Linked DNA regions of Homo sapiens: region 1 is linked to region 2. The links come from fine-mapping of genetic effects on gene expression. A gene starts in region 2. The other region holds a variant in brackets. All regions are shown on one strand. Distances are from middle to middle. Region 1 overlaps LHFPL2 (LHFPL tetraspan subfamily member 2). Region 2 holds the start of SCAMP1 (secretory carrier membrane protein 1).

Region 1 (15,160 bases), 120 kb before region 2:
GACAGTAAACATTTTAGAGTAAACATTTTAGATTTTGCAGACCATAGCAAAGCAGTCGTAGGCATCCAAAAATGAATGGCCACAGCTGTGTTCCAATAAAACTTTACTTATAAAGTTAACATTTGGCTTGAGGGCCTTAGTTTACCAACATCTGCCTTAGACCAAAAGAGAAATGCTCAGTGCACCAAAAGCCCTGTGGGAATACATAGTAACAAGTTGGCCACTCGTGGTGGAGGCCGAGGTGGGAGGATCACTTGAGCTTAGGAGTTTGAGACCAGCCTGGGCAACATAGCAAGACCTCATCTCTACTTAAAAACTTAGCCAGGTGTGGTGGTGTGTGCCTGTAATCCGAGCTACTTGGGAGGCTGAGACAGGAGGATAGCTTGAGCCCAGGAGTTCAAGTGCAGTGAGCTACAACTGCACCACTGCACTCCTGCCTGGGCAACAGATTGAGACTCTGTCTTAAGAAGAAGAAAAGTACCAATTTGCTTTTCTAGAAGAGAAATTTTTAGTGGATTCACATTCCAACATGTAAAAAAGTGGCTGAAAATATTTCTAATAATGTGATACTTCTTGATCAGGTCAGATTAGTTTGCATGAAACAGTCCCAACACTTTCTATTGCAGAATAGATGCCCTTGCCCAAAGCAAGCAAATCAAGTAACAATTACAACAGATCTGGACAGTTGTAGCACCATGGGGATTTTCTAATCTGTTTTCTCTTTTGTTCTGCAGGTCTATTCCTTATCCTCGGTTTGATACTCTACCCTGCTGGCTGGGGTTGCCAGAAGGCCATAGACTACTGTGGACATTATGCATCTGCCTACAAACCTGGAGACTGCTCCTTGGGCTGGGCCTTTTATACCGCCATTGGGGGCACAGTCCTCACTTTCATCTGTGCTGTCTTCTCTGCACAAGCAGAAATTGCAACCTCTAGTGACAAAGTACAGGAAGAAATTGAAGAGGGGAAAAATCTGATCTGCCTCCTTTAGTTTGGAAGAGACAATGCCATTTTCTCCCTTGAGTAATCTTGTGAAACAGTCCACAGTTTCATCATTTGAGTCAAGTGGAGAACTAACCTTTACCTACCAAAGCCACGTTCCACGGCCCGAGGCTTAAACAGGACCAATGAGAGGCCACATCCAGCTACGCAAAGTTACTGGACATGCGGTCTGCAGTGCACATTATAAGGAATGGAACATGAAAATAGTATATAATCCTAGACCTGGAGTTGCCAAGTTCTGTCAGACTCCATCTCCCCCAGGTTCAATGAAGGATAATAATCTAAATCATTAGGGCAGCAGTTTCTCTGGTAACGGAAGAGACCGTCCGCCAGATCTGCAGGCTGTTTCTGCTCCAACACTGCTTGCTTGTGAGCATCTCTGCCTCAGAATGGGGTTTTGGGTTGGAGTTCTTGTTTTCCTCTGTTCTTTCAAGTTGTCTCCAACGAACAGAAAACTATAAACTTACTGGGGACAGGATGTGTGCTAAAGGGCACAGCAAGACACTGTCTTTTGCTTAGCTGACCAAAGGGGTCAGCAGGGATGGCGTGGAGTCATGCTGTGGAACTTATTCTAGGCTGAATCCTAGGGTAAGGTGGATCAACTGAACTGTCACTCCAGAGATTTTAGAAATTTGAGTAAAGAAACAATAAGGACCTATACAATCATATGAGAACAAAAATATGAAATCTTGCTAGTGAAGACGTATTTTTTCTTCTTCCCAGCAGCCAGGCTAGCACCAGTTCTGGCCCAGTCTCCTCTTCTTCTGGAGATCACATGTTTTTCTTCTAAGGTTAGGATTGTGCTTTGACTGCGAAAGGAAACCTCACTGTTTCCTCCTTCCAGGGACTGAGGTCTCCAAGCTAGCTGTGGCTTATGCAGATGTTCACTGGGAGGACCTGCCAGAATCTCGGCACTTGGGGGGAGACCTTTACTCCCAGTTTGGTGACCATGCTGTAGTCAGCTCTATTTCCAATCCCGACAGTAGCAGAATGGCATTCTACAACAAAAAGAAGCTAGTTATGGGAGTTAAGTTTTTGTAGTTACTGGTGTTGATCCTGAAAGCAGACTGAGATAACATTAAATTGCTGCAACTGAAGAACTGCAGCCAAGACCTTAATTCCAGGAAAGCACAGAGGACAAAGTTAATTCAAAAAGAGGCGCTAGATCAAGGTCACAGCACTGCCTACACCTGTTTACAAAAAGAATCAAATACCACTATGAATAAGGATTCAGGGGTTTTTAATCTACTTTCCATAAATTACCAATATCACTGATTCAGGAAGATAGTATCTCAGAATGACCAGAGCAGCACAGAAACAAGCTACTCTGACATTATGGGAGCTTCAAAATTGTATCATGATACAGAAACACTCCTTAGCACTTTAAGAAAGTGAGATGGAACTGCCAGATTTCTGGAAGGAGAAAAAGTGTAGGTATTTGGGTTCATTAATCTGCTCACTTGAGGACTTTGTTTTGAAAAAGTACCTTCTGTGGACAAGGTATTGTGCTACCAGCTATACAACCCTGACTTCAGAGTTTGCAACCTTGCCCTGAGTGAATCATGTTAAAGCTGTCTGAGTCTAAAGCACCGTATCTTGGTGCAGAACAGATAATTATACAGAGATGGAATGGGACAACCGCAGTTTTACTACATTCTGGTGTTTGGCCTATATGAGAAACCATCTTCTCACAGATTAAGGGCTAAGGGCAAAAGGGGTGGGAGGTGTGGAACTAGCCTTAATGAGTTTCCCATTCCTGAACCAAAATTCAAAGTGAGTGAGATGTAAATCCTGTGATTTTGGTGAAGAAAAAAACGGGTATCTTCATAGCAGCCTAGGAAACCTTAACCATATCTCTAACACCACACAGAAAGAGGCTGGAGGAGCCACTGGACAAAGCTTCTGTCTCTGTGTGTACATTTATAATGTTCTAACCAAGTCTCAAACCTTGATGAAAAACACAAAATTTTTCCATAAACTTATCAGAAGACTCACTTTTCTTTCTTTCTTGGATAGAGAAACCATTTTCTGACACTAGGTTTACAATCTCAGTGTCCTTACAAGTTAAGTCCTAAGCTCACAGGATCCTCCGAGCATGTCCATCACCTGCTCTTTGGCTAAGGTGGCAGTGTACCTCTAGATCAACCTGGGAACAGTCACAAGGGAGTGTGACTTCTTGGCCATAATAAACTCACTCGATAGTGTTTATGTTATTAATCTGAATGCAACAGAAGACAAAAGCACAGGCATGCACACACACAGAACCCCAAACCACTAAAAACTACCTAAACACTGACTTAGTAAATAGTAAAAAGGTAATGTTGGGACTTTTAAACCTTGAATCCATTAGCCAGGCTTGGGATGAAAGGACCATCTAAAATCATGCTAGTCTAAACCATGCTCTTCCACACAGCTGTTTAAAAACCACTGGGTATGAGGAATATGCTAGAAAGAAATGTTAAAAATAGATTGTTGGCTCACACTTATTTTTCTAATAAATAGGACCATTATTACTACCAGGAAAGTCTTATTTATTTTGCCTGAAATTGGCTTAAAGAAAGTCTCATGACGGGATGGGATGGGCTGCGCTTCTCAATGAACTCTGAGGCAGAAATATTTGCCTTGGATTCTGTGGATTCTTTAAACCTGTGTGCTAATAATTCAAACAATGTTGCATTAATTGTATAAGGGTTTTTGTATAGTTTTCAAACATCTGTGGTGTAATGATCTTTGTTAAACATATATTCTGTAAAGTGCCATAGTCTTTTTTTATGTGTAGCATATTTAAAAATATATATGTATATTATACATACACAAGTTTGTGTGAAAGATGTGCAATAACAAAGGTGTATGTATGTTTTGTTGTTTTGTTTTGGAAACTGGACAGGAGTCAAAACAGGGATGTTTGTTTCTGTTTTGGCAAGGAGAGTTCCACATTTTTGCCTTCATGGCTTATTCAGTAACCCATAATTTTAATGCTACACAAATCTTATGTGAAGAAAAGACTGGTATGAAATCATTTTTTCCTGGGTCTAAAATAATCGCTAGTGTTATGTCAAAGTTAAGCCCGCACGCCAGGCCCAGTTAATGCTAGTCTTTCATGTGAAATGTGAAGCTGCCATGTTGCCTTTTCTCTTAGTAGGATAACTAGTAGCTGGTACATAATCACTGAGGAGCTATTTCTTAACATGCTTTTATAGACCATGCTAATGCTAGACCAGTATTTAAGGGCTAATCTCACACCTCCTTAGCTGTAAGAGTCTGGCTTAGAACAGACCTCTCTGTGCAATAACTTGTGGCCACTGGAAATCCCTGGGCCGGCATTTGTATTGGGGTTGCAATGACTCCCAAGGGCCAAAAGAGTTAAAGGCACGACTGGGATTTCTTCTGAGACTGTGGTGAAACTCCTTCCAAGGCTGAGGGGGTCAGTAGGTGCTCTGGAGGGACTCGGCACCACTTGATATTCAACAGCCACTTGAGCCAAATATAAAATTGTATTTACAGCTGATGGACTCAATTTGAGCCTTCAAACTTGTAGTTATCCTATTATA[TTGTAA/A]ACTAATACATTGTCTAGCATTGATTTGGTTCCTGTGCATATGTATTTTCACTATGTGCTCCCCTCCCCAGATCTTAATTAAACCAGATTTTGCAATTCATTCTTATTCTTTCAAGTCTGAGTATACTGGCTTCAATATGATGTGTATAATCTGATCAAGAAAATACCTATCAATCAGTCAACATTTATTTTAAACACTAACTTACATGTAATATTGATGAATGGAAAAAAGATATTCAGGTATTTTAAACTATCCCATTCACTAGTAACATATATGTCCCTACCCTGGGCTATCTTTCTTTAACGTCAAGTATGTATTTCTTCCTTGAAGAAGCATCAACACAATTGTAAATAGGAAAAAACATCTCAAGTATTGTAAACATATATTTTAAAGTAAAGCTATGAAATATGAAAATGCTCCGAAGTATTAAAAAGGGATTTTCAAACATAAATATGTAACAATGACAAGGGGAAAAGTTAACTGAAAGACACATCCTCCTCTTCCAACAACATCCCTAAAAATAAAAGCCAATGATACGGTGCCATTCCACATCCATGTTTCCTGAAGGTAATCCTGGCCATATAAACCCTCATCCAGAAGAGGTGGAATTCTAATTTATAAACTCAAGAATGACACTAAATGCCCTTCTCAACTCTCAACTCTCTGTATCCCATGAAGCATTTATTATTTCATACCAAAAAAAGGCAGTTTCTTCCCCTGATCTAGGGCCTATGACAGTTGAAATTAGATTCATGTTTTGGTTTCTAATAAAAGCTGACAAAGTTACCCATATCAGTTTAAAAAAACCACACACAGTTTTCCAAATAATCATGATTTGAATAACCCAAGAAAAATTAGAAAATTTCCATTGCTTTTTCAGCTGTTATTGTATTCCCCAAAAGTTAATCCACACAGAGAATGGACCCTGGTTGAATTTTAGCAGAAGCTGGGGAATCCTCCCATGTGCTTCCCCCGCTTCCCATCCTTAGTTGTTATCTAGCAATTCTGCTACTAGGTCCACTTTCCACACTGATCTTTCTGGAACATGCTGCATTCAAATTACACCTACACCCCCTTAAAGTTTTTGCTTAACCAAACAACCACTTACAACGGTCCTTACTAACGTGGATATTTTATGTGGATATTATTTCAGTAGTTTCAAACAATCTTTTTCAACTCTCAAACAATGAAGGGTAGGGTATCAAAGCAAACTTTACTCTTCAAAGCAGTAAGAACCAATAACTTTATTTCAGAGGCCCTCACTAGCAGCTGAGTCATTTGGCAGAGCCATCCCACTGCTCCCCCTACTACTATCTTCTTCCTTGCAACTTCCTCTCCTTACCCTGAACAGTTGTGCAAGATAAGTCTTGCAGACAAGAACTGCCAATTTTACTAAGGTACACAGGACACAGATAAAAGCACACAAAAAGAGGAAGTAGTGAAACCAAAACCACATGGGAAAGAAAAGTCAATCAAGTAACACATTGCTATTAGCAGCTTTTTAGCTTTTTCTAGCCAAACATCCTGAAAAATTGAACACCTACAGGTAGGCAGTCCAAATGCCTATGTTTAGGGGAAACCACTATGATTTTATTCACAAGAGACGAAAGCCTGAATTAAGGCAGTGATGGTAAAGGACAGTCAATGGGATGAATTCTATGTTAGGGAAAAAGAATGGGCAGGTGACTGATCAGAAGTGGAGAGGAAGGAGAGGAAAGAGTCTAGGATGACAGCCAGGTATTTAGCGTAGACACTGAGTGGAAGGTGATGTGATCACCAAGATGAAGACTCCAGAAGAAGCAGGGACAATGAAGGTGAGGAGGTTCAGCTTAGGCTGCCAATGTAGAAGTCCTGTGTGCAGCTAGGACTATACTAAGGAGAGAGAGAGATTTGGGAGTCATCAATACACCTGAGAGATGGTAAGTGTCCTTAGTTATTGTGCAACTTCTATGGGCAGATACTATGCTAAATACTTCATAAAATTCATTTATTCATCAAAATCCTATGAGATAGAAACTGTTACTATTGTTTTACAGATAACTGTCACTTAAATAACTGAGGTTAAATAATGTATCCCAGGTTAGAAAGCTAATAAGCGGAAAAGCCAAAGCTCAGATACATGTTTGACACCAAAGGCAACTCACTCAAACTGCTATGTTGTTTCCTTCTACCTGGAATGCACAAGGTGGGAAGGCAGCCAATGCAAACTCCTGGGCAATATCTCTACATTGTAAACACTTAGAATAACTTCCAAATAAAACTCCAAAAGGGCCTCACCATCACAACTGATGAAAACACTGCTTCTTCCTCCCTTTCAGAGAAAACACCTAGTGATTTTTCATAATTTTGAAGATGACACCATATGTCTCAATTTATCAATCATGATTTAGCTCAATCCTGAAAACAGACACAAGAAATTCATTAAGTATGTGACAGTGGGAAAATAAATGATAGGCTTTGACAGTTTTTATTGTTTTCTTAGTATAAATAATCTCTCATTCAGGGTAAGCAACTATTATAATCACATAAGAAGCATATTTAACCTAATAATAAGGATTTGTCCTCGACTAAAGTTTCTCCAAACACACAAACGCCAAAGACCCTTTAGTAAATTTACACTGCTGAAGAATGGGCAGCAGGTACTCACCTTTAGGTGGCAGGTGTTAGCATTTGGTCTGGAGACTTCAAAAATATATGTAAAAATTTTTTTTGTTGATTTTTTTTCTAGTATCTGTTGTCCCTAAAGGATGGACATGAATGACTGGAAATGTGGAAGGATGAAAGGGAAGACAACTGGAACGAGGCGGCATGGTGGGGCAGCCACGCTTGGCAGGAGTCAGGGGACCTGCCTGTTCTCATCATCCCTCTCCAGCCCTTCACCACCACCACTCACTGAGTGACCTTGGGGTAATTTCCTAGAACTCTACAAAAACAGAGCCAACAACAGAAATTATATCACAAGTTTGGTATGAAAATTAAGTGATGTATATAAAGCATTTAGTACAGAACACTGGTATATAATTAAGCCCACAATAAGCTATTATTAGAAAAAAACTAAGAAAATACTACCCACCCAGACTAATATCATTTTAAAATTACATTCTATGAAAGGTAACATAACTTGTCGAAACCAGTGTAATTTTACCTGGAGAGACTCAGTGGATTGGCTACCTGAGGCCACCATTTCTTTTTCCATCCTGTTATAACAGAGCATTCAGCTAATTATCTTTACCTTAGAGCTTTCAGGAAGCAGAAGATTTCTCAGTGGATGCAGGGTACTCAGTTACTCCTATTTAGCAAAAACAAAAACAAACAAACAAACCGGTAGCATTGGGTGAGCACATAAGCCATGTGAAACCAGAATGCTCAGAAAAGAAACCTGATTTGTCAAAATCTATTGGGATAAAAGACTTTTTAGAAAAGGAACATCCAATGCTGGCCAAGGATGTGAAGAAAGAGGCCTTTCCGTACATTGCTGATGGAGTTACATATGGATAAAATTTTTCTGGAGAGCAACTTGGCAAAGCACATGAAAGGTGCTTTAAAAACTATGCATAATACCCTTTAACTCAGCAATCTGTCCTAAAGAAAAAACAAAAGCCCGAGTCCCCAAATTTAGCAACAATATATTCCTTGATAAATTATTTATAACTTTAAAACCCTGAAAATCAGAACCTAAAGGAATAACAAGACTTTATGATACATACATATGATGTTAGCTATATAGCTATACTAAATGTTACAGAAATATATTCAGAGATATTAAAATCTTCAATACATATTTATATCATAACTGAAATAAGATAAACTGTTGTGTTAAGATCCTCCAGTTAAAAGTAATAAGAAACCAATTCAAGATAGTTGAGGGAGAAAAAGCGGTAAGATTATGAGGATAATGGGATAAGGGTGAGAAGTAGGGCTCCATAAAGGAAAAGGAAAGCCACTAAGATCTTTTCTATGTCATTCATTTTACATCTCCTGTTATGTCTGTTTCATTCTTCATTTTCATTGCAGACCAGCTTTCTTGGTGATTCCTTCCTCATGGCAGAAAATGGCTACCTCTTATGTTCCAATTCTGGAACAGTAGAGTTCTAGACATATCTACATTCAGAATAAAAAACTGATAAGCCAGGAATGAGTCCACTATGGCCAGATGACATCCAGTACCAATGTGGACTTTAAGGACCCAAAGAAGTGGGGCTTTTGAGGAGTAGGTAGACATCCCTAAAGGATGTACAAGGATGTACGGGGTCATCTCATTTTTAATATTAGGAAGTTGTCTTCCTAGAAAAATAGAAAGATATAAACCAGATTTTAATAGAAGTTATTCATGGATGTAAAATTATGAGAATTTTGGTTATTTCTTTTGCTTATATTTTCTATAATTTATACTGAAATATACATTAATTTTATAAATTAAAAAAGTTAATTTAAAAAACTAAACTATTGCGCCATTATGACATAAAGCTAAGTGAGGGGAAAATAAGGTTTTTAAAAATCCATATTGCTTATATCTCTTAACTAAACAAAACACATATGCATAGAAAAAGAATGGAAGACAATAAAATATTAGCAGAGGTACCCCAAGATGACAGAATTAAGGATTTATTTTTATTTTCTCATGTATCACTTTCTGAATTTTTAATTGTTCTACAACACATTATGTATTGCTTTTATACTAGAAAAAAAGTGTGAGGGATGCATAGGCCCAGTGGGTTCAGTTTTTGTGCAGGAGACTAGAATACTGTAGATACCACAGTGATCACCAGATAAAAGACACTGATTTTTGGTGTTTTCCCCCATCCCCAAAATACCTGAATACTACTACAAACTGCCAACAGTAACAACTACTACAATCATGATTTATCTTGAGAATCACTGGCATACAAAATATTAAAAGTTGTGGAGGAATTCTAGAATTACATTTAAGTAAGCACTGAAAATAACTAGAATTTAAAAATAAAACTTGTATGGTATTATTCTACAAACTAGAACTGTTTTAATGTATAGAAGATAATATTCACAGTAATCTTATATTACTAGGTGGATGATTAACTATTTTCTGCTCCTATTACAGAAAAGATTAAATGGCTTTTAGTGTTAGGAGGGTTTCAGCTACACCATCAGCCATGTCAAGCCCAGAAAGATATGAACTGAAAAATAAATCAGGATTTGGACAAACACAAAGTTTAACACTCACTACATTGCCACATGATAGTTCCCATGTTCCCTTGCCATTTGAAACACGGCCAGCACTAATGAAAATTCTTTTTTTTTTTTCTTGAGATGGAGTCTCGCTCTGTCGCCCAGGCTGGAGTGCAGTGGAGAGATCTCGGCTCACTGCAAGCTCCGCCTCCCAGGTTCACGTCATTCTCCTGCCTCAGCCTCCCAAGTAGCTGGGACTACAGGCGCCCGCCACCATGCTCAGCTAATTTTTTTTTTGTATTTTTAGTAGAGATGGGGTTTCACCATGTTAGCCAGGATGGTTTCGATCTCCTGACCTCGTGATCCGCCCACCTTGGCCTCCCAAAGTGCTGGGATTACAGGCGTGAGCCACCACACCTGGCCAAAATCCTATACATTAAATGTTTGTCTTACCCAAACCCCAAAGTTAAATTGTAAATATAAAACCCACAGCGGGGGTGAGAAAACTGGAGAACAGTCTTTCTCTATTTTCCTACAATCTTCAAATAAGAGGTATCTGCTTATATAAGACAGGTTAGTGGCAATACCTGGCTTAGAAAGTTTCTAGATTTATTTCTAGCTCTCTACATACTGTGATAAAGTCCTAAAGTTTAAAAATACCCACCAATATTACAGGCATGCTGCTTTATAAAATATGCCCTAAAATTCTAGCCAAAATACTTCACTTTCTGTAATACTTAATATGTGAGATAAAACTTTTTAGCTCAATAAAAAAGTATTTAAAACAACTCATGTTTTAAACACATTAGTCTACTCTAAATAAATGTATACTATTGTACTTTAAAATGTATCAAAGTAAGGTGTTTTCTATTTTTTAACCATCCTCAATTTTTTTAAAATTAACCAATCTTATTTCATCTCTAAAGGGCTTAATCACATGAAATGAACAAATTCCTCTAAACATTTTCCTTAAGGAAAAACTGAAAGGAGATATAGTGAAATGGTATATGACAGCCATGGTAACTCTAAGGTATACATAAGCAGGGGAAAAAATGCTCAAAATGTAACAAATTCTGTATATAAACAGTCATGCCAAACACAGATTTGTACCAATAAGGATACTGAATTAGATGTTAACAACAGTGTTTTCAGAAAAAGATACAGCAATGAGTAAAAAGCACTATGCTATTACAAATGATTTACAGAAACAACTAATTAACCTAACATAAATCCCCTTAAAATGCAAACCATACATAATCTTAACATGAATTACAGAATAAAATATTTTCCTAGTAAATTAGGTGTAAAAATCCAAACTTGCTTTTTTAAATATAACACCCAGAAAATAAAGAATACTGTTCCTTTTTTAACATGTATTTCTCAAAATAAGATTCACCATGAACATTATTTTAGATATTTTTACATCTTCTTTAGCTAACCAAGTGAAAAATCCAATATACACAAATAGGTACTTTCATCAGTACATAAAACAGCAATAGGTAGCAAGGATAGAAATCAGAATACAAGTTCAATTGAATAAATACAATACTAGTACAGAGACACCCATTTTTAACCCACAATGAAAAATCTGAGCCATGAATAGGTTTTCCATTTTGAATCTAACTTCTAGATGATCTGTATTTTGACCTTAAAGGGGCCAAAATATTTAATATGGGTGAAGCTCATGTTCCATTACCTGTAAAGGTCTAATGCAACAGAAAAATGGTCATTTTACATTGGTTAGAATTTTTAACTAGGTCTTTCATATTATTTTGTTTAGCACATGACAGACTTATACACATATTTTAAAAAATCAAACATGGAATTTCTATATACATCAAACCTTTAACAATGTCTGTCTCTGAATTGCTATTATAGTGTTCAAAATTATACAAACAAACATCCAGTAAACAGCATTTTATTTTATGACACTCTGTGTTAATACAATAAATATACAAAACTTCCAACCCACTGAAACATGCAACATTAGAGGGACACATGGAGGGCATTTCTGTAGAACCATGACAGTCACCATGATGGCAGCGCAGTATTAGTTACTGACAAAATATACAAACATCTCTAGATAAATAATCCAAGTCCCAAATTACAAATCACTGAGTAATGACTTTCCGGTGTTCAAACTTTAGTTTGAAATAAAATTGCCATAATTTAATATTACAAAATGATAAATGACACGGATGACTGCTGTGTGAAGACCATTTTATGACTATGATTTCATGACTGTGATTTTAGTACTAAATATAGAACACTTAACAAATGCCAATCTTTTGCTGAGTGAAAATTTAACAATTTACTGAGAGAAAAGTAAATATAAGAATTTAAAGTTCCTTTCATACTTGATCATACTATAAGCATTGCCATCATTTCAATGCACATATATTTTTAAAAAACAATTTTCTCTCTCAAACTCATATTAAATAACTGGATTTTAAAACATTTTCCCCATCCACACAAAAAAAGATATGTGGGTTCTAATTATTCTTTGCTATTTAATAATGCTACCTTTGAAGATTTCTACATAATATAAACATTCCAATTCTGAAGCAAAGTATTTCAGCATTTTTCAAAAGTCTCTAATATATCTTTTGTTTGTAGTGTACAGGAAAAAATGGACTTGGGATATAAGTTAATGGTGAATATAGGTGCACTTGCTGTATTTTGTGGTTAATGTTTTGAATGTATGCAAAATCCACACTCAATAAAGCACACTGATAAAATAGATTTCCAATAAGACTACAGGCTCTGAAAAACAAACTGGCTAAGTTGGTTGAGAACATAGGTAGAAATTATCGCTGATTAGAAATATTTACAAAAAATAGCTTTAAATTCATACGCTGAAGAATAAAAGAAATGTCTTCCAAGTATACCTGATGTCAATAAGATCCCAAATAAATCAAATGTAAACACCATCTGGATGGATCTGTGTTACCTAGTGACATGCAGCGCTGCTTCATGGATAGTGAAAACTTGGCATCCCACCTCTAGCATAAAACTTTTTCTGTAACTACAGGTTTGGGGAGAATGAAAGTGATTTAACTATTTATGCCTATCTGATTTTTTAAAAAATAAGGATTTCCAGCCTCTAATATCACAATCCTTACTTAAAATCTAATTGAATAATCACTATCATTCTGCAATCTTAATTTAGTTAAAGACTTTCAAAACACAGCAGCATGACTTACAGATGTCTTTGAGTCATTTATTTAATCAGTGGTAAAATTGATTCAAAGGTTGAACCCAAGAATACTATAAGAATGAAGTTCTGTGCTGCATAGTAACAATTTTAACGTGATTATCTTAATGCAGTTAACTGTATTTATATTTTCTTGCTTGGTGCAAGTTAAATGCTTTTTTTTTTATTGCTGGAAATTTTAGATATATTCAGTCTGTCTCAAAAAGTGAAAGACAGGTGCATTTAGGGATTCAAGTATGTGAAAAAATGCCAGGGTCTTTTTATGTTTAATGCCACTGGAGATGAAAAGCTAAAAGGAAAATCCCTTAAATACTGTACAATCTTTTTAGACAACAGTTAGGCTAGCCTTTAATACCTCTGTTAAAAATCACACACACACATCCCCAAAAAAGAGCTGCCAGACACAATCTTAGTTGTAACCACAGAATATACCAAAGTTTTCATATAGCAAAATGTTACTATATGACTACCGAAATTTTTTTAAAAAGGAATTATTACCACTACTTTCTACTGCATTAACTACCTTCTCTTTTGGATAATGTACTGCATATTATATAAACTTCTTATATTGCACCCCCAAACTTTTTATTTAAAAGAAATTCTTGCAGAATATCATTTCTGTGATTCCATTAACCCCTGAATCCTACAACCATAAGCAGTACAGAAGCCAAAACACTAATTCTTTTAATATAAGAAATGTGGTGCCCATGCAAATTAGAGATTGTTATCAAAATATCAGCTATTCTAAAAAAAAGAAAAGAAAAAGATGACAAATTTTACATTATCTACTACAAAATGCACATAGGCTCTTCACTGGTGACTGAAACAGCTAAAAAGCAAGCCAATTTAAAATCCCTAAGTCTCTGCTGGCCTATTTCTTTCAATATAAATAGGGAAAAAGGAATGAAACATGGTTTACTTTTCCAATGTGCAATCCTTATCTCTAAAGATTCTTGAAAGAACTACTGCAGTTAGTATTAAATGCGTTTTTAATCATAAGTACCATTATTAATTTTCAGTGGGTCACCACTGAAATAATTCACTGAATGTCATCCCCCAAAAATATGGAGAATATTTATTTAGCATGTAATATTTTTTCTGCAAGGGGCACTGAAATATTAAGAAACTATTAGGTAAAGTAATAAGACAAGGAAGTTTTCCTGGTTTTAGCCCATGCACAAGTGAACAGGAAATATCCATGCTGTCTGTACTGTGTGTTTTGAACATAAAAATATTTGTAGAATACAGTAACTGGAGAAAAAGGTACAGTCAAAAGGTAACAGTGTATTGTTTGAAGATTCTTAAATCTGGTTACCCTTGAAAGCATTCTGAGCTGCACTAGATGCTGCAGTTGAAGCTGCATTTGCAGCTGCGGTCTGGACAGTTTTGTTGGACATCACACCTGTTGCAAACTCCTGTTGGGCCTTCTCAAAACTAGCACCTGTTGTGCGATATAGTCCATGTACCTACAGAGGCACAAAAAAGTGGGAGAAGGTAAGTAGCAACCTACGCATTCATTTCCAGCAGCTCTTAATCTCAACATTAATCAAACATAAAAATACTAGATTGTAGTCATGATTCCTAAGATCAAGAATATTAGCCACCAAACTGACACACAATAATTGTATTTAAACATTTTCTTAATATAGGTTTTCCTTTTCTTCTCCAAGCAGAAGAGATAATTATGCTAATTTAAACCAAAAATAAAGAACTTCTTAGCCAACTTCAAAAAGTTGTATTTTCCTCTGCACCCAATTAGTCAAGTGAAATTATTACAGCATTACAATGAAATGGTTTAAACATAATAACAAGAAACAATACATTAATTTATTACCCCAGACTATTCAGAGAGAACAGTACCTTATCTATTTCCATTTTATCTACATATACACCACAGGCCCTGTTATAATCAAATGAGATCATTTTATCATTTAATGTACCAAGCACTACTTATGTCCTTCAACATATTGCCGCTATGCACTCTGTATACAATTTAACTTTTTGTGTATGGTCAAGTCCTAAAGAATGCACAAAGAAACACTTCTGGGAATTGTTTCTCCATACTGATTAATCACTCAAATCTTGGAATTTATTTTCAGGAGTAGGGTTCAAAAATTTTCTATCAGTATATGTCTTAAAACCTGCATAATTAAACTATGAGTCCATCAATACATAACATCAGCCACTTATTTTAACACAAATTTGAAGAAGGAAATAACAAACATTTATTAATTATATGCCC
Region 2 (15,321 bases):
ACGTAAAATAACACAGGCCCACAAACTGCAACCACTATGTTCCAGATTAATGTTAAAAGACAGTTTTCAAAATGTGACAATCACAAAGGAAATCCTCAGAATACTTTCCTAGTGCTATCCAATCTCCAAACTCAAAATTTTATATCTTTTTTTTGTTTGTTTTTTGGGTTTTTTTTTTTTTTTTTGAGACAGGGTCTCACTCTGTCACCCTCCCGCCTCAGCCTCCCAAGTAGCTTAGATTACAGGTGTGCACCACCACACCCAGCTAACTTTTAAATTTTAGTAGAGATGGAAGTCTCACTATGTTGCCCAGGCTGGTCTCAAACTCTTGGGTTCAAGCAATCCTCCTGCCTTGGCTTCCCAAAGCACTGGGATTACAAGCATGAGCTATCAAGCTCAGCCTCAAAATTTTAAACAGATAAGGGAGGAGTGAAATCAACTTGTAAGTATCATTGTCAAGGTAAATGAAATAAGATGGATAACATTCTTGATGTTACAAAATGAAAACTAAGGTCTGAACGTTTGTTTCCTTAAAAATCACATGCTGAAACCTATCACCAACGTGATGGTATCAGAAGGTGAAGACTTTGTGAGGTGACTAGGTCAGCAGGGCTCTGCTCTCAAGAATGGGATTAATATCCCTATTAAAAAAAGGACCCAGAGGCCAAGTGTGGTGGCATACACCTGTAATCCCAGCACTCTGGAAGGCTGAGGCAGGTGGATCACTTGAGGCCAAGAGTTCAAGGCCAGCCTGGCCAACATAGTGAAACTCCGTCTCTACTAAAAATACAAAAATTAGCTGGGCATGGTGGCATGCACCTATAATCCCAGCTACTCGGGAGGCTGAGGTAGGGGAATCGCTTGAACCCAGGAGATGGAGGTTGCAGTGAGCCGAGATGGCACCCCTGCACTCCAGCCTGGGCGACAGAGCAAGACTCCGTCTCAAAAAAAAAAAAGAAAAGAAAAGAAAAGGGCCCCAAAGAGCTGCCATCCCCTTCTGCCATGTGAGGACACAAAGAAGATGCCATCAATGAGGAAAAGGACTCACCATACACTGAATCTGCTGGGACCTTGATCTTGGACTTCCTAGCCTCCAGAGTTCTGGGCAATAAATTTCTGTTGTTTATAAATTACCCACTGTGAGGTACTATACTTTGTTACAGCAGCCCAAACAGACTAAGACAAATGAATAACACACTTGAATTATGGGTCATTTTCAATTTTAAATTTCAACTCTTACAATGCCACCAGATTACTGTAACTTAAAAGATAACATAAGTGAGAATGCTGAATTTTAGGCCATTTCTAAAAAAAATTTCAATAGACTAAAATTAATTTTTGAGGCCAAAACAAAATGGACACTATGCTCAATTTTAACATGGAGATATTTTATTAGGGAGGAACTACGTGTTGTGAAAAAGCACCAGAATTCAGACAACCTTGGTCTAGTCTAGCAGGTTGATGTAGGCAAAGCACTTAATTATTTTTAGCTTTGATTCCTTGACTATGATCAGTCAAACAGCTACTACCAGCACTCCAGAAGATCCAAAAGTAACATAAATTTCACTAAATTCATAGCTAAGCATATAGAGATTATTAAACAGAACTTTTTTTTTTTTTTTTTTTTTTTTTTGAGATGAGTCTCGCACTGTCGCCCAGGCTGGAGTGCAGTGGTGCCATCTCAGCTCACTGCAACCTCCACCTCCCAGGTTCAAGCAATTCTCCTGCCTCAGCCTCCCAAGTAGCTGGGATTACAGGTGCCCGCCACCACGCCAAGCTAATTTTTTGTGTTTTTGGTAGAGACGGGGTTTCACCATGTTGGCCAGGCTGGTCTCGAACTCCTGACCTCGTGATTCGCCCGCCTCAGCCTCCCAAAGTGCTGGGATTACAGGCGTGAGCCACTGCGCCTGGCCATTAAACAGAATTTCTTAAATTACTATTAATACTAAATATTAGTACCTAATTAAAACCACTATACATTAAGCTCTTACTATATGCTAAATGTATGTTCATCTAATCCTATTTACAATCCTATAGAGAATGTACTATTACCCTATTTTACAAAATAGTAAACTGAGTCTTTCTTTTTTAATACTTCTAGGGTACATGTGCACAACGTACAGGTTACATATGTATACATGTGCCATGTTGGTGTGCTGCACCCATTAACTCGTCATTTACATTAGGTATATCTCCTATCCTTCTCCCCTCCCCCCACCCCATGACAGACCCCGGTGTGTGATGTTCCCCACCCTGTGTCCAAGTGTTCTCATTATTCAATTCCCACCTATGAGTGAGAACACGCGATGAGTAAACTGAGTCTGAAAGAGGTTAAGTAACTTTCCAAGGTCTCACAACCAGTTAGTGTCAAAGCCAGGATCAAGCCCAGATCTTTTCAAATTCTTGAGCCAAAATTTTTTAATCCTATCCTCTGCTGCCTCCCCTCAACTCTAACCTCCAAATACAAAACAAGAATTTTGGTATCAAAATGCAACCAGGGAGCACATACAGTGTCACCAGTAATGGACTAGAAATCAGGAGACCTAAGTTCTAATGCCAATTCTACACTACCTACACATGGGCACAAGACAATGAGCAAGTGTGCCTCTGTGGGCTTTGTTTTTTAATCTATGAGATCTGACTGAATATATTTTAAGAATTTGCCCCCCCAGCTGTGAAATTCTAATTCTCTTCATATTTTAAAAATTAATTTAAATGTTATTTCCATAATGAACTATCTTATTCAATCAATTATCATGTTAATATGCAAAAGCATAAAGCATGAAAATTTTCTGACCACTTACTAATTTCTTCCTTTTATGAACAAACTGCACTTGTTCCGGCACTTAACCATACACTCTTATGCTGACTTGTAAGAGCCTATATTGCTGACCTCTGCTGGTTATTAAACTCTCCCCTTTCATTCATTTTCCAAGCATATTTGTCTCACTGTTAGACTAATAGCCATAAGGACAGAGACACTTCTTCAGTATTTGTTGAATGAATAAACTCAACAGAAAACAAAGGACATACAGCAATTCTTCAATAATTACATGTTGACTATACAGAAAATATTTTTCCCTCTATAGCTTTAAAACCCCATTTTAACAGCTCAAGAGTGGATCCTCAGAAACTTCTATATAATTAATCACCTATTTTCTTTTCGATCACTACAGATTTCCAGTTATTCCAAGTTTCTTGATGCGCAATGAAAGCCATTCAAATTTCATAAAACCATTCACTAAGCCTAGGAAAACCACTAGAATATAAAGCAGGGGCTCAACAAAAAAAAATGAACTGAATCCAGCAAATAGCCTTACAAGAACCAATAAAATCAAGTAAACCACTATGGTTATATTATATAAGGAGAATAGACTCAAACTACTTTCATGATACGGCACAAACGAAGATGCTTGCAGAAGTATTCCTAACATAAAAGTGAAGGAAAAGAAATGCTAAAAAATGAAAAAGGCAATGGAAAACAAATAGGATTTAATGAAAAAGAAATTAGCATAGTTACCAAATGCGAAATATCATATACTTGAAAATAAGAGCTTTATCTTCAAATACTGCAAATAAAAACAGATTTGAAAAATGGGTCGGGCCCAGTGGTTCACGCCTGTAATCCCAGCACTTTGGGAGGCCAAGGCGGGTAGATCACGAGGTCAGGAGATCGAGACCATCCTGGCTAACACGGTGAAACCCCGTCTCTACTAAAAATACAAAAAATCAGCCGGTGGTGGCGGGCGCCTGTAGTCCCAGCTACTTGGGAGTCTGAGGCAGGAGAATGGTGTGAACCCAGGAGGCAGCGCTTGCAGTGAGCAGAGATCGCGCCACTGCACTCCAACCTGGGCGACAGAGGGAGACTCCGTCTCAAAAAAAAAAAGAAAGAAAGAAAGAAAGAAAAACGATCTGCTTGAACGCAGTGGCTCCCGCCCGTAATCCCAGCACTTTGGGAGACTGAGGCAGGTGGATCACGAGGTCAGGAGTTCAAGACCAGCCTGGCCAATACAATGAAACCCTGTCTCTACTAAAAATACAAAGAATTAGCCGGGTGTGGTGGCGGGCACCTGTAATACCAGCTACTAGGGAGGTTGAGGCAGGAGAATCACTTGAACACGGGAGGCAGAGGTTGTGGTGAGTTGAGATCACGCCATTGCACTCCAGCCGGGGCAACAGTGCAAGACTCCGTCTCAAAAAAAAAAAAAAAGTAAAAAAAGAAAAATGATCATAAAGTAACTCAAATGATTCTAGAAACATTTCAGATTTAAGTAGAGTATCAGAAATGTTATTTCAAAAATCACTTTTACATAAATATAAGCAGAAGTAAAAAGACAAAATATAGATATAAAACTATACTTTGTGAGGAGGAGGGGCAGGTGAACATAAATGGAAAAATAAAGGGTCAGATACACTGACAGTGCTATAACAGTCACCAAAAACAGAGAAAGATCATAAGCAGAAATATGTGTACAACCAAGTCTACTTTAGACCTAAATGATCTGTCCCTGATGCATTTTACAAACTTGAATAATCATTGTCCTGGATACATCCACTTATAAAAGAACAAAAAAGATTTATAACGTTATGCCACAATGAATATTTAAAACAACTCCTGGGTTTAGAATTACTACAGCAACTTTATGAATGTCAGAAGAGGAAAAGTGTCATGGCAATATCAGATGTCACAAAAGGACAGTCTGGGCTAAGATGAAGACAATGTTTTGCCCTAACAAGAGAGCCAGTTAATATGAAATGAACCATGAAATGGAATGACCAAGTAGAAAATACACTGCCAAATCGTCAGATGCTGAATAAACAGCGTCAGTGAATTATCTGAATTAGGAAAGGCTAAAAGGTTCTTGATGTTTTATCTTCAAAATATTTTAAAATAACACCCATTTAACAATTTATGAACGGTCTCTTTAGAAAGTCTACCATTTAAGAACTACCTGATTTTCCACAACATGGAAGCAAGTCCAATACTAATTGAAACAAAACTGCCAGGAAAAAAAAAAAAGTCTTAAAATGCAACCATGTCACTGAAAGGTACAGGCCAGTTGTACTGAATTTTAAGTGACATTAGGGACAATGAAACAGTGACTGAGTCTAATTCTACACTGCTACAAAGTGAGTCGAGTTGTCAATAATAATCAGGGTCATTTCATTAAAATAATCCTCCTTGGAATTATCAGGCATTTAATAATCAGAGCAGAAATAGTTTTCCTCTTCCAGGATTCTTAATGAAAGATAAAACCAGGAGTAAAAAGATGTAAACTCAACAAGCCAGAAGTGACACTTGTGTGACCACAAATTAGAGTTCCTGTTTTATTCTGTGTGACTGCAAATTAAAGTTACTACTGCACATGGCCGGGGGGATTGAGAAACAACTTCAACCAACAGTTGGAAACAAATTACACGTGCTAACAGTTACACTCATTAGGAAATTCAGAATACTTTCAAAGAGAGAGTTATTTAGATGTTGCATTCATTTAAACGCAGACGATGAATATCTCAGCCGCCTTCCTTTGCAGGATTCTGTGCCAAGCCCTTCCGAAGCCGGGGTTGATAAGGTCGACTCCAAGAAGAAAAGCAGCTCAAGTAGGAAATGGTATCCTCACATAGCCCAGAGAACCGGTGACGCACTAGGAGCTTGGAAAATATCCCATCGTTTACCTTGCTAGAAGCAGCTGGGTAGGGAAGAGGTCGTCCACGTGCACTATTGTTTTCCAGATATGTTTATTTTTAAGTTTTGCTTTGGTATCAATAACCTCAACCTCAACCTAACAGAAAGAGGGGGGATGGCAGCGCCACTGGTGGTATTTGGGTGCAACACAAGTTTAAAAAATAAAAACATAACCTTTTTTTTTTTAATTGCAGCATACTCGGTGCCCTCACCTCTCTCCTCCTCCACACCTCTGCCATCACCCCACGCAGCTCTCCGCCGCCGCCACCTCGGGTCCCCATGACAACCCCACCCCAGGGCGGGCCCCCCTCCGCCGACTCCCGGCCCTGCCAGCCACACTTGCTTGGCAAGGGGCGACTCTACCTGCCCTCGGCTTTCTCTCCTGAGAGGCGGGCCAGGACCCCTCCGGGCGCGCGGGCCCAGTCCCGGCTGCAGACACGACCCTCACCAGTCGGGGACGTGTGGAAGGGCGACCGGGCACGAGCTGAGGAGGTTCCACCCCCAAGCCCCAAAACCCAAAGGAGTGACACGGGGCCGGGGCGCGACCCCAAATGGAGGACGGCGGCCCCGCGCCCCTCTCTGGGCTGCTAAGGGGAGCCGAGGGGCAGACGCAGTGGGCGCGAAGGAACTCGTCCGTTTTCACAAACAACGACGCGTCGCGGCGGCAGGAGATGCTGGGGCCGAAGCTCACCTTGAAGGGATTGTTGAGATCCGGGTCGGCAAACGGGTTACTGTCGAAATCCGACATCTCTCTGGCTCTCGGCGTCACCCACCCGACCCAGGCGCAGAGAGAGAGACGAGGCGAGGCCGCCGCCCCCCTGCGCGCTCACGTCGCCGCCGCCGAGCAGATCCGGGTGCAGCTCGCGGGCCACCCAGCCGGCCGCGCCACTGAGCATGCCCGGTGCGGCGGGCTCCTGGCCGCGGCGCAGCTCGCGTTCGCCATCCCGTTCCTCCGGGCCCGGATCCCACGCTCCGGGCTTTAGCTGCGACCGAGTAGGCAGTCGGGGCGAAGGAAACGGGAACTGAAAGCGATGAAAAGCGTTCCACACGCCACGAGCCCGCGGGATCCTCGGAGAGTATGGAACCCTTCCCCTCCGCTCTCAGCCGGAGGCCAGCTGCGTCCAGCCGGGCTCGGTCTTCTGAACACCGATTTCAAATCAGGTCCTCGGGGCCCAGCGTCACTTAGGGAAGTGGTGGCATTTTGTGGTAAGGACGCACACTTGTCAGGTTGGGGGAGGCAGCCTGAGTCGTGGGCCGCGCACCCCGGGAGCAGTGCCGTTAGACCGTGGGACGCGGGCACTGGAGAGGCTACTGCACCGCCCTCCGCAAATTACCTCCCCGGGGCGGGGGCGCGGCCGCTGCTAAGGATTTTTGCATACCCCTGACCCCACCTGAGAATCCCGGCCTCCCATCTTCCGGTCTCTCTGACTCTAGGTTGCTGCTAAATCACGGAGAGCAGCCTTGGCGCTGCCGGTCCCAACTTGATCCAAGGAGCCTTGAGAAGGAGATGAGATTCAGTACCAGGGGCCGGCCGTGGCTCCCATCCTCCGGAATCTGCAAAATGGCTACTTCTTCAGAAATAATGGGGAGAGGGATGGCAAGAGGCCAGAGATCAAGGCCCTCGAGTATTAACTTGAGCATTTGGGCACAAAATAGACACTTTTGGATTTTCCCGTCTTTTCCAACACCAAGGATGAGATTATCAAAAGATGTGTTAAATTAATTTGTACCGGCCGGGCGCGGTGGCTTACGCCTGTAATCCCAACACTTTGGGAGGCCGAGGCGGGCGAATCACAAGGTCATGAGTTCGAAACCAGCCTGGCCAATATGGTGAAACCCCCGTCTCTACTAAAAATACAGAAATTAGCCGGGAGTGGTGGCGTACGCCTGTAGTCCCAGCTACTCTGGAGGCTAAGGCAGGAGAATCGCTTGAATCCGGGAGGTGGAGGTCGCAGTGAGCCGAGACCGGGCCACTGCACTCCAGCCTGGGAGACAGAGCGAGACTCTGTCTCAAGAAAAAAAAAAAATCAATTTGTACCATTCCTTGCCCCACCCTGCCGAACTTATTGAAAGAGCATCGCTTTCCTCACTTTTCTCCTCTAACAGAAAAGCACTTAGATGAAGCTACAGGGAGCCAGAATTCTTTTGACTTGGTGGGTACCGGAGGATTGGAAGAATCTAGATTGAGTATTCCTTGGCCTTTGGGGAGCTTGCTCTATGCAAAGTCACCCAGGAAATGATACTCCCCCCACTGTGAAACACTAGCTAGAGATGATAGACAAAAAGCACATTTGTTGTAATCTCCCTTTGACGGGATTCAGGTTGGGATAGATGTCGAAGCAGCTGCTTCTAGGTAGTCAACGAAGATGTCAACTAGTAAATGACAACAGACAAGGATGAGCACAGCAGAGCTGTACGATTCTAGATATCAAAAAGAGCAAGCAGTCTGTTGTACTCACCATCGCATCCTCAGCAGCTGCCCAGTGCCCGGTTTTAACTTAGTGCTCAGTGTATGTGTCAGGTTTGAATCCCAATTCTGATACTACCTGTGCTACTCTCTTCACCTCTCTGAGTCTGTAAAGGATTATTTAAGAATTAAATGAAACAACATACAGAAAAGTGTCCTGCATGTATATTTAGTGCCTAACAAATATTGGTTGAACGTCGAAAGTGGCAAGGAGGCTCAGTATGTTCTTATACGCTTTGCCTCCCTTCTCCTGAGCAAGCATGTCCTTGCCCAGCTCATCTGCTTCTCTCACCACTTTTGCCCTCACTCCCTCCACCTGTCCTCCAAATGACTCAAAATAATCTGCACTATTTATTATGCATCTACTATGTTCCAAGACAATGAGGGTCAGCTGAGCCCGCATTGCAGGATGGAAATTTCCAACTATGTTCTGTTTACAGCTAATGATATTTGCACCTAATGCAAAGGTTTACAGACTTTACTGTTATAGAATCATTTGGAATACCTGTTGAAGATGCAGACACCCACCTTACCATACCTCCTATTGCTAAGATTACGCTTGAAAGGATCTGAGGTAGGGGCTCTGGATCTGCATTTTTTATTTTTTACATCTCTATACATTATTTTACATAAATGTATAAATGGAGTCATGACATACATATTGAATTTTTCACTTACAAAAATTTTTATTCCGTGTATTCCCTCTTCTCTTCCCCTACATTAACAACCTAGTACATTTCTTTAAATATTCTTGTAATAGTGTATATCTGCACTTACATAAAATAACATGTAATTGTATAAAAACAATACATATTCATGCAGATATGCATACACTCTAATACTGAGCTTTGGCATTGTCTTGAAAAAGTTAGATCATATGTATATTTTTCTGCAGCTGTTTTTCTCAATACGTATGGCAGAATTTCTCAGCAAGATGTGCATTGTCAGAGAGACAGTCTTAAGGTTTCTTCCCCTAGTATGCCACATAAATATTATCACTTTTTATGTGTAGCATGCCTATAGAGTGAAAAGGGAAGCATGGCCTAATGGAAACCATATATCTGATTCATTATTCTTAACAACTGCAAAAATCAGCATATGTAAAGGATCTCAGGTGATTTTTTTTTTTTTTTTTTTTGAGACCGAGTCTTACTCTGTCACCCAGGCTGGAGTGCAGTGGCACAATCGTGGCTCACTACAACCTCCACCTCCCTTGTTTAAGCAATTCTCCTGCCTCAGCCTCCCGAGTAGCTGGGATTACAGGCATGCACCACCACACCCGGCTAATTTTTGTATTTTTAGTAGAGATAGGGTTTCACTTTGTTTGCCAGGCTGGTCTCGAACTCCTGACCTCAAATGATCCAGGCCACCTCTGCCTCCCAAAGTGCTGGGATTACAGGCATGAGCCACCATGCTTGGCCAACCTGAGATGACTTTGGTGGTGGCTGATCACACTTTTGGGAACACTGATATGAGGACATGCAGACATATGGTCCATGGGTGAGGGTCTTAATCTGTTTGTGTTGCTATAAAGGAATACGGGAGGCTGGATAATGTATGAAGAAAAGAGGATTATTTGACTCATGGTTCTGCAGGCTGTCAGCTTCAGATGAGGGCCTTATGCTGCTTCCACTCATGCAGAAGGCAAAGGGGAGACTTCGTGCAGAGATCACATGGCTACAGTGCAAGATGGGGCATCAGGGGAGAGAAAGGGAGAAGCTGACTCTCGGTTCTTTTGAACAACCTGTTCTCAAGGATGAGAACTCACTCTCAGGAGAATAGCACCAAGCCATTTGTGAGGAATTCATCCATATGGCCCAAACACCTCCCACCAGGCCCCAACTCCAGCACTGGGACTCATATTTCAACATGACACTTTGCAGGTCCAAAGCCATACCCAAACCATAGCAGGGAGCTTATTAATTCATTAGCCTCCATGAAATTTAGAATTATAGAATGTGCGAGCTGAGAAGGAACCTCAGCCTCTCTCATGATTGAAGAAACTGGAGTTTGGACAGGTTAAGTAATTTGTCTCAGACACCAAGGAAGTGAATGGGGAAACAGGGAACAGAACTCAGGTCTCTTGACTAATGTTTTAGACATTAAATAAATAGGTTATTAAATGAATAGAATTATTCTATATGAATAATTTCATATAGAAGGAAGAAATGCTATGTGCAAGGTAGAGAGAAATTATACAAGAAGCCTCATTTGGTGCAGGAGTTCATTTTACGGAAGGTACCTCCTAAATTTGGTAGAACAAAGACTCAAAACCAGTCTATGCCCTCTCTCCTGCAAACCAACCGTTTGATCTTGAACATATCAACTCACCTTTCTAACCAGAGTTTCTACTCTAGTACATCATTCAAGTATTTCTTGAGCAACTAAAACAGTGATGTTGTGGATAAAGCAGTAAACCAGGTATAAAGCGTAAGGCCTGCTCCAGAAAACTTCCTAAAAGGCCTAGAACATGGCTAAAGGATATCTCAGATCCTTTGGACAGTTCTAACGTTCTATTAATCTGGGACAGTGGCTCACTCCTCCCTAACCCTGTTTCTTTTCCCCTCAGAGTGTGCCTCCCATCATCATCATGCTGCTTCTCCTCAGACTGACACTTTTAATTGGTGAACCTATTGAGCAGGGTCTAGAGTCTGAATTCCTTGTTTTCTAAACTGCCTAGCTTATAGCTGGGGAATGCTAGGAAAATGCCAAGTTAGATATTTACGTTTCTTGCCTCAAAAGGTTCACTGGATTCTGGGTTCACTGATGGATTAGAACTGAAATCCATCATCTCTTACAGTGGGTCTAGTCTCCAGATTTGCTGCTGTGTCTGCTGATACCCTCGACGCCCCAGCACCAGCCTATCTGGCTCCCTATTCTGCCACTGGCTACATTTTCAGGCAATAACAGAGGAGGTGCAGGCATTGTGTGGTAGGCCAAATAATCCTCCCCTCCCCCAAAGATGTCCATGCTATAATCCCTAGAATCTGTAAATATGTTACCTTACATGGCAAAAGAGACTTTGCAGGTGTAATTAAGGTTAAGAACCTTGAGAGGAGGGGATTATCCTGGATTATTCAAGTAGGCCCAATGTAATCACGAGTCCTTGAAAGTGGAAGAGGAAAGCAGAAGAGTTGCTGACTTTGATGATTGAGGAAGGGGTTCTTAAACTAGGGCATGTGAGTGGCTTCTGAAGCTGGAAAGAACCCTCAGCTGACAGCCACCAAGGAAACAGAGATTTCAGTCTTACAGACTCAAGGAACTACATTCTACCAATGATCAATGTACAAGGAAATAGATTTTCCCTCGAGCCTCCAGAAAGGAACCTAGCCTTGCTGACACTTTGATTTTAGACTGGTGAAATTCATGCTGAACTTATGACCTACAGAGTTGTAAAATAAATAAATAAATTTCTTGATTGTGCAGATTATTTTGTTAAAAAAAGAAAAAAACCAAATTTTTGTATTAAGATGCTAAATTGGTAGTAATTTGTTTCAGCAGACAGAAAATCTAATACAGATGCTTCTTGATTTACAATGAGGCTATACCCTGATAATCCCCATCGTAAGGTGAAAATGCATTTAATACCCCCAATAAACCCATTGTAAAGTCGAAAAATCATAAATCAAACCACTGCAAGTCAGGGACCACCTGTCCACACCACTGTGGTGTGGAAAGTAGAAGAAAGAAAAGGGACGTACACTCAGTTTCCTGGTGTGCCAGGAAACTTCCAAGCAGCAGAACCAAGGGAAAAATGCAAAGGGTGTTAATGAAAAGAAAGTGAATGTCATTTGACTTGTCCTGAGTGAAGACCCTCAGTTACGGCCAACTTTAACTATGTAAATAGCATGGAAACAGTATTCTTTTTAAAAAGGAATATACAAACCAACTGTATTTGGCTTCGAATTCAAAGTTTACTATTAATAAAGGGAAAAAGCAGATTTTCCACTCTTGCTCTTCCACAAATTCTGCAATACTCTCAGAATGTGTATTACTCTGTCATATAATTGATGTCATCATCATATATATTCCAATTGGCCATAGCACCTTGAAGGCAGGGTTTGTATGTTTTTCAACATTGTCACTCCAGCATCTGACATGGTGCGGCAAATAATTAGTGGATGAATGAATAAATGCCGCAGCTTCCATTTGAGGCTTAACATCATCTTTGCTTCCATTACTAAAATACTATTTGAATGACTCTTCCCTCATTGCAAATGCTGTCTTCTTAAACGTTTTTATTAAGTACTCCTTTGCCTAAAAACCTTTATGATCTCCTTGTCAGCTATAGGAGAAACACTAAATTCAGTATCATATCACTCACGGTCCTTCCTCACATGGCCTCAGTCTATGCTTTCAGCCATACCTTTCCCCCACTGGCTCTCTACATGCATTTATTTATGTATCTGCTTCCCCTTCTCCTTTTTTTTCAAATTTTAGGACTTGTAGTGCAACCCACTAGTCAGTCATAAACTCAATTTAGAAGGCTATGACCAGCACATTTTAAAAGAGAACAGAAAATATCCAAGTACGTGGCACACAATAAACAGAAGCTGCACAAAACCTTTGTTTCAGTTGTGTGTACATGCGTGTCACACTTAAAATTTATTTATTGTGGTCATGGCTCTAAACTGAGAATTCCTCAAGGACAGATTATGTTTTATTTTATTATGATTGTTGGCTTTTATTATTCCCAGTACTTATCACAGTGGCTGGTAAAACAATTATAACTTGTTTATTTGTTGAATGAACCAGACTGAACTAAGGGTATTTTGGAGTTAAAGACTGTAGAGCTACACCAACAGCACAAAGTCAAGTAGTGTGGGTTTCCTCGAGGGATCAAGGCAGTCTGCCTGTCTCCACAGGATGCCCTCAGTTCTCCCACATTATCACAGCATATGTACTTGGGTCCCAACGGCAACTCCACTGCTGCCTCCCAATCAATTCACAAATTGCTATGGAACATCTCTGGGGTAGGGTTCTGACCTAGAAGAAACCTGAAATATAGAGGTTTAGTCCTGGGACCAGGATGAGGGTGAGGCCACAGAGGCTTCTAGGGCACCAATTTTAAGGAGACATTCACCCTCAGGGTCGAGCAAGTAGCAACCCTGCATTCAGTCCTTTCCCTGTCTTCTAACCAAGTTGATGAAATCACACAAGCACAAAGAAGCACCAGGGGCTTTGCAAGAAGGCCAGCCTGGGTTCAGATTCCTGATCTGCTGCGTTCTGGGTTGTGCAACTCTTCAGGCAAATTGCTTATCCTCCCTAATCCTCACGTTCCTCTCACCTCCTTCATTACCACGCTAATTCAAGCCATCAACATCTCTCACCTGGATCACTGCCATAGTCTCTTAACTAGCCTCCCTGCCTCCACCCTTGTCCTCCTACAATTTATTCTCCACACAGTGCCAAACTAATTCTTTTAAAATGTAAGTGAGGCCAGGCATGGTGGCTCACGTCTGTAATCCCAGTACTTTGGGAGGCTGAGGTGGGCAGATCACCTGAGGTCGGGAGTTCGAGACCAGCCTGACCAACATGGAGAAACCCCATCTCTACTAAAAATACAAAATTAGCCAAGTGTGGTGATGCCTGACTGTAATCCCAACTACTTGGGAGGCTGAGGCAGGAGAATCACTTGAACCCGGGAGGCAGAGGTTGTGGTGAGCCGAGATCATGCCATTGCGCTCCAGCCTGGGCAACAAGAGCAAAACTCTGTCCCCTCAAAAAAAAAAAAAAAAAAAAAAGTAAATGAGAACATGGCCCTCATCCACTCAAAGCCCTCTAATAGTTTCCCAGCTGTATCAGGATAAAAGCTTGGGCCTTGCAAGTCCCTATGGATTCCAGCCCCTATTGCCACTCTAACTTTATTTCCTATTCCTCTCCTTCGCATTATCTTGTTTCAGGCCCCCGGCCTCCTCACCACTTCACGTGTCCCCCAGGCGTGCTCCCACCACAGAGCTTTTTTCCTTTTGTTTCCTCTGCCTGGGTGCAGTTCCCGCCTCTTGACTGCATGGCTCACACATTCACTCATCTCCTGCAAGTCTTTGCTCAATTGTTACTTTCTCAGTAAGGCCCTTCCTAACCTCCCGTTAAAAAATGTTAGCCCTCTACTCTCTAGCACTTCCTCCTTCCCTGCTGTATTTTTCTCTAAAATGCCTTGCACCATTTGACATACTCTGCTCCCAGTAGAATATAAGCTCCTTGAGGATAAGAACTTTTGTCAGTTTTGATCACAGAGATCTCAATGGCTAAGACATAAGAATAGGGGCTCAAAACTGTTGAATGAATGAATGAAAGAATAAATGAATCAAATAGGGATAATAATAGCCCCTCCTAGAATTATGAGACTTAGATTAGAGGATGCTCAATAAATGGTAACTATTACGATTAAGGGACAATTAAGAACTCAAGAAATTAGTTAAAGAATAACTTAAAAAAGGTTAAGAAGTACAAAAAAGGCCATTTAAGATGAGCAAAGGCGGTAGGCACAGTAGAGGCATTCAGAGGGGAGTGAGGTGGTTGTGGCTGGAGTGGGCTGTGGAAACTTCAGAGAAAAAGAAGGATTTGACTCGGGCCTTGAAGGCCTGATGATACTGCTATCAGCATGAAGCATGGAAAGGACAAAAGAGCATACCCATTGGGGCAAAAAGCTTGCGCACAAGCACATATATGAGAGAGCACAAGATAGAAGCGCTTTCACCATCTCACATTTACTGTGGGAGAGACGTCAGGAGAAAAGGTAGCAAGAGAAGAGGTGCTCTCCTTTCTCCGCAGGTGCTTTGGTATATTTATCGGTTATCTTCGACTCAATGAGTTGACCACTAGCAAGCCGTAGATTCACACCACCACCCATTATCCAGCTGGCTGCCTTCCAAGCTCATCGCCTAAGCCAAGCCCAGTCCAACCAGCTGTATACAGTAACCCACCCTTTCCCATGTGATTATATGTTGTTCAAGAGACTGAGTGGTCTGAGTATCCCCCAAATAATTAGAACACAGTGGCATTCCTTTATTATTCATTGTATTAAAGTATTCTATATCACAGGAACACAATAGATATAACAAAATAAATATATTTTTGAGTCTCCGTTTACCTATACATGCATATAGTCTCCTCTACCAAGAATGCCCTTCTGTCCCTCAATTTCCACGTCAAAGTCCCATCAATG

Evidence for each region. PIP is the estimated chance that this variant, and not a neighbour inherited with it, causes the effect.
Region 1: its variant is fine-mapped to the expression of SCAMP1 in monocytes (Quach 2016, PIP 0.94).

What each region holds. Positions count from the first base shown.
Region 1 is chr5:78,474,728-78,489,887 of GRCh38, reverse strand. LHFPL2 (LHFPL tetraspan subfamily member 2) reads left to right here. Exons shown (of 5, transcript NM_005779.3): 5 at 735-4,658. The coding sequence ends at 991. SCAMP1 (secretory carrier membrane protein 1) reads right to left here. Exons shown (of 9, transcript NM_004866.6): 9 at 9,149-14,384. The coding sequence ends at 14,220. Among named protein-coding and RNA genes, the nearest start is that of SCAMP1, 120 kb to the right of the region's middle. The variant TTGTAA/A (reference allele first, on the strand shown) is at 4,554.
Region 2 is chr5:78,351,785-78,367,105 of GRCh38, reverse strand. SCAMP1 (secretory carrier membrane protein 1) reads right to left here and starts at 6,489. Exons shown (of 9, transcript NM_004866.6): 1 at 6,378-6,489. The coding sequence starts at 6,434. It overlaps SCAMP1-AS1 (SCAMP1 antisense RNA 1), which reads left to right and starts at 6,565. Exons shown (of 2, transcript NR_105014.1): 1 at 6,565-6,892; 2 at 7,121-8,342. RefSeq lists enhancers at 5,730-5,849, 6,244-6,840, 6,760-6,919, 6,950-7,039, 6,841-7,437 and silencers at 5,940-6,059, 6,490-6,579.